2 separate regions of the Homo sapiens genome follow, and region 1 is linked to region 2. The links come from fine-mapping of genetic effects on gene expression. A gene starts in region 2. The other region holds a variant in brackets. All regions are shown on one strand. Distances are between the middles of the regions. Region 1 overlaps CARD8 (caspase recruitment domain family member 8). Region 2 holds the start of CARD8 (caspase recruitment domain family member 8).

Region 1 (2,500 bases), 21 kb before region 2:
CATTTTATATTCTCTTTCCTGGTGCATGTGCATGCTGGAGTCTGCCTGCTGAGGAGGGGTTTAGAAAGTGGGAGGAACCCAGCGCTGAACTGCAGACAGCGCATCCCAGATCATGAGAGCTGACGGTTCCATTTTCAGGGCTTTTGCAACCAAGTTGTTCAACACAACCATTAGTCTAAATTAAATGATACAAGCTAACATTTAAATAAATCATATTAAAAACAAAAGTAATACATATTAAAACATACCAATTTCCAGTCATTTTTCTACACTTTTCAGCAGTCTATGCCCTTGAGGTTATTTATGTCTCTTGTATCTGTGTGGTGAAAGCAGGATGACAGACTTCTGCATGTGTTCTTTCAACTCCCTCATCAGGGGCTTCACGTTGGTAGTTTGAAATCTGCCATGATGGGGATATTCAACCCTTGGAAATTGGCATACCCTACAAATAGACGCATTCTCCCCTCCCCGGTGTTAAACCTCAGGACCCCACTGTGGCCTTCAGCCTCATCATCAGCCAGTTTCCTAGAGAATTAGGTTGGTTTTATGTATTGAGTAACAGCTTAACCAATAACCCACTGGTCTTCGATTGCATTGCTCATTGCCTTTTTGTGTATAGGTTCTCTAGACACCTCCATGGAAGAAAACCTCATTGCTTAAGGTTTGTTTCAAAAATTTCTGGATTCATTGCTAGTATTGCATAAGCTCATTCATTCTCCCCTGAGTTCGATGAAAAACACCCAAATTCCTCTAATTCTCATGTTCCTCTGTGATATTGAGACACAGCGTCCAATAGTTTTCCAACGGAATAGCTTTTCTTACCTGGGAATGTCCCCCCCAGATAGTTGACACTCAGGAACAGCACGGAACAATAATGGCTCTGCCTCTGTCTCATCATCTTCTTGGAAAAAATGTGAGATGTCACAAAGGGTCTCAGAAACACAGGGTAGCTCCCTGTATACCCTGGAAAACAACAACAGAATTTTTACTATGAATATAAGGTAGGTGCCTGATGATAGCATAGGCTGTGCAGGAAGATTTTATGTTAATAGCCATAGACTCAATATTTTATCTTAGGGAAGTCATTCCTCAGGCCCCTACGACTCCATCTCACCTCTCAGACTCCCATGACTCTTTCTTACATCTCATTATGTTAAATTTAACTGGCTCTCTGTTTCCCACTA[T/C]ATGCTGCTCTTTCCATCCTAGGAAGCAGACGTCAGTCAGTTCTCAACATCTAGCATTTGCCACAAACATTGGTTTCATAATAGGTCAACAAGTATGTTGACCTATATAACCTTGCTAAGAATTTTAGGGAAAGGATGAGATTCCTAATTTGTAGTCTCCCTTCATCCATAATTGGTGCCCGAGAGAATAGGACCCTAAAATGATTGGGATTGCAGGGCATTAGTGAGATTGGGCATGTTTTATAAGAACCCATGGAACAGTTATCTCCTCTTCTCCCTTCTGCCTGCAAATGGTGAGAGGGGTTGCATAAAGCAACAAAAATGCTCACAGAAAAAGAAAATTATGGATATTGTACACACTTTCTTTTCCCATCAAGGATCCTTATTCAGATATGGAACATGAGAGTCCTATGCTAGATCCTTTTCTCTTCTTCATTTTTGAAGGCTTGGTGCTGTCCTCCTATGGCTGGCAGGAATCAAGATTGAGGTTAGGAGTGATGGAGTGTCCTTTATGCCAAGATATTCAATGGCCAATATGACAGCCACTAGCCACACCTGCCTATTTACATTTAGTTTTAAATTGTTAAATGTGAAAATCAGTTCCTCCTTTGAAGTAGCCATATTTCAAGTGCTCAAAAGCCACACGTGGCTCTTGCCTGCCACCATGTAAGACATGCCTTTGCTCCTCCTTTGACTTCTGCCATGATGGTGAGGCCTCCCCAGCCACGTGAAACTAAAAGAATTTTTCTGGGTAATGGACATAGGCATAGGACGTCTGGCAACAAAATCTGCTTTGAAGAGGACTCCAGGGAATAGAGATGAGGTCTCAGGCTGGTCTTGAATTCCCGGCCCCAAGAAATCCTTCCACCTTGGCATCCCAAAGCACTGGGATTACAGTCATGAGCCACCGCACCCAGCCTGAGCATTACTGTTTGATAGATATTCCCAAATCACTCTCCACAAAAGGTTACAACAGTGAACACTTCCATCAGCTGAATATCTGTGAAAGCAATTGTTGAGAGATTTTGAAGTAAGTTCAAAACCAAACTGTAGAAAAAAATCATTGACAAAAAAGGAAAGCAAAAAAAAAGAAAGAAAATAACTGAGGAATTATTACTGAAGACAACTTTTGTCTAAAAAAAAAAAAGAACATTTGTTTGCAATGTAAAATCGGGTTTCAGCTGGAAAATTAAGCCTGTTAAAAACATCAACAACAAGAGCAAAAATCCTGAATATTTTTTCAGCAATTCTGATTAAAGTATGTATGTTAAAAAAAGAAAAAGCCATGTGAGGCCAGTGGCTTTCACACTGGACAC
Region 2 (3,033 bases):
AATGAGTTATAAATAATAAATAATTGAGCCAGGTGAAGTAGTACATGCCTGTAATCCCACCTACTTGGGAGGCTGAGGTAGGAGTTTGAGCCCAGGAGTTTGAGTCTGGTCTGGGCAGCATTGCAAGATCCCATCCCCCAAATAATAAATAAACTAACTAAGTAATCAATAATTGAATGAGAAAAGTTAGCTCATATTTCAATATGTTCAATCTTAGGATATATACTTCTAGGCAACCACTTAGTGACAAAAATTCTGTAGAAATCCATCATTGAAAGTTCATTATGTAAATAAATGTGAAGACTAGATAAGAACCACAGAACACAATGACATTGGAAAAAATGCCACAGTAATTCTTTGAAAAAAGAAATGCAGGCCTGGTGCGGTGGCTCATCCCTGTAATCCCAGCACTTTGGGAGGCCGAAGTGGGCAGATCACAAGTCAGGGGTTCGAGACCAGCCTGGCCAACATAGTGAAACCCCGTCTCTACTAAAAACACAAAAACAATTAGCTGGGTGTGGTGGTGGGCACCTGTAGTCGCAGCTACTCGGGAGGCTGAGGCAGGAGAGTGCTTTCAGAGAAACTTCTTGATCACAAGGGGAAATCTGAAAGTTGTCAGAACAAAATGGAGTCACTTATGTTAAGATAACCCTGACAAATAGAGCCAGGAAGGCCATGAAGAGAGGGCTCTTATCCTTGCATGCCTGAAGATGAAAAAGACTCTACAAAACCCACAACCTTACATAAAGGTCTTCACAACCTTAAAAAAATATATATTTCTGCAAGGAATGCTGCCCAGCAACTGCTGGTCCAACCTAGGACTAATGTCACCCTTGTTACTGATCTTTGTAGCCAAGGAAAATTCTGTTAAAACAATATGCAATCCTCCCCATTTCTGTCTTCCTTTATCTCCCTGAATATACACATAGTTTAATACGGCATGTCTATTCCCAATTGCAATGCTCTATTCCCAAATAAACATTGTTTCCGGCTGGGCGCAGTGGCTCACGCCTGTAATCCCAACACTTTGGGAGGCCAAGGCGGGCTGATCTCGAGGTCAAGAGACGGAGACCATCCTGGCCAACATGGTGAAACCCCGTCTCTACTAAAAAATAAAAAATTAGCTGGATGTGGTGGTGCACGCCTGTAGTCCCAGCTACTTGGGAGACTGAGGCACGAGAATCGCTTGAACCTGGGAGGCAGAGGTTGCAGTGAGCCAAGATCATGCCACTGTACTCCAGCCTAGCCACAGAGCGAGACTCCATCTCAAAAAGAAAAAAAAATTGTTTCCCTTAGGAAGCTTTCATATGTTTGTTAGTTAGGTTAACACTTCTAATAATTAAAGTTATACAGTTACAGTGTAAAATTATTAGTATTAACAACATAAACATTGGTATAAAAATTATTATTACAGAAATTAAAACAAATTGAGTGTGAGAGAGATTATTAAGACTGTCCAAGCCAAGTCACTGAAGTCATAAATTTAAGTTATGACAGGATGCCGAGCTTCCAGAGGGTTTTGTTTTTAACAAGGGAGGGGCCCTATTTCCCCTTCTGACACGCTCATATGAACTTCTCACTTTGTCGTACTCCTTCCTTGCTGACTAAGAGGAACAGAACACAGAGCAGCCTGGCGGTGTCCTACCAACAAGCCTCCGTTTCTCCTTCCTGTACACTAGGGCTCCTGAAACTCACCTGGTAAGCGCTCCAGAAAAGCAGCAGGTGGTGACTTTAGGGTAGGACGGGCCAAATGGGAGAATCCCCTTAGGTCGGTTTCTCTGGTTCTCAACTTCTTTTGAAATAACGCTCGCAGAGGAGGTGGGCTTTCTGAGAACTGAGGGAAGTAAGCTCTCAGGACTTCCGGTCGCCATGATGGCTGTGGGCAGTCAATGGGGTCAGTGCAAGCATCTGGGCCATCTTTAATGTGGGCAGGAAAAAAACACGATTACACTTACTTCTGCAGAGTTTATAATATCCTTGTTCATTATTTAAAATAAAATATCTAAGACATAGGTAATAGTATATTTTAAATAAAATTGAAGCAATATATGAAATTTCTCTGGAATTCATCCAGCCACTCTCAGCTGTTACCACTATCCAGAAACGTCTTAATCCGCCTGCATGATTTATGTATTTGGTTTGTATTTTAAATATCATTTTCTGTAATATTTAAAAGTTGTATTTGCTTGGTATCCTGCTATGCATTCTCATGCAATTTGATTTTTAATCAATATTACTTTTTTTTTTTTTTGAGATGAAGTCTCCGTCTGTCACCCAGGCTGGAGTGTAATGGAGCAATCTCGGCTCACTGCAACCTCTGCCTCCCAGGTTCAAGCGATTCTCTTGCCTCAGCCTCCCGAGTAGCTGGAATTATAGGTGCATGCCACCACGCTCGGCTAATTTTTTGTATTTTTAGTAAAGACGGAGTTTCACCATGTTGGTCAGGATGGTCTCCGTCTCTTGACCTCGAGATCAGCCCGCCTCGGCCTCCCAAAGTGCTGGGATTACAGGCGTGAGCCACTGTGCCCGGCCTTGGTTTCTAAATACTATTTTGAAGTATCTGTGGAGAAATGGTTACTTCGAGGGCTGGGGCAGGAATATATAAGATAACATTGGAACAAATTCTGACGCCAGAACATGAAGAAATATTTGAAAAAGGATGGGGCATATTGACTGAACACAGAAGACAAACATGCATGACCTCAGCCTAATCGTGAGAAAACATCAAAGAAATCCAAATTGATAAACATTCTGTAAAATAATTGGCCATGCTCAGCAAAAGTGTCACAATCACAAAAGACAAGGGAAGAATAAGAAACGGTCACAGCCTGGAGGAATCTAAGGACATAACAACTGAGTGCAATGTGAGATCCTCGATTCGATCTTGGAGAAGAAAGAGGACGTTAAGAGAAATATTGACAAAATTCAAATAAGGTCTGCACATTAGGTAATGGTAAGATACGTTGACATCAATTTCCTGGTTGGATACTTGTATTACATATACTATTATGTATATAATTATTATATTACAAT

Evidence for each region. PIP is the estimated chance that this variant, and not a neighbour inherited with it, causes the effect.
Region 1: its variant is fine-mapped to the expression of CARD8 in whole blood (TOPMed, PIP 0.93).

The regions. Positions count from the first base shown.
Region 1 is chr19:48,233,581-48,236,080 of GRCh38, forward strand. It overlaps CARD8 (caspase recruitment domain family member 8), which reads right to left. Exons shown (of 14, transcript NM_001184900.3): 6 at 823-963. Among named protein-coding and RNA genes, the nearest start is that of CARD8-AS1, 21 kb to the right of the region's middle. The variant T/C (reference allele first, on the strand shown) is at 1,185.
Region 2 is chr19:48,254,097-48,257,129 of GRCh38, forward strand. It overlaps CARD8 (caspase recruitment domain family member 8), which reads right to left and starts at 1,816. Exons shown (of 14, transcript NM_001184900.3): 1 at 1,696-1,816. CARD8-AS1 (CARD8 antisense RNA 1) reads left to right here and starts at 1,579. Exons shown (of 2, transcript NR_040599.1): 1 at 1,579-1,698; 2 at 2,255-3,033. RefSeq lists an enhancer at 1,685-1,924.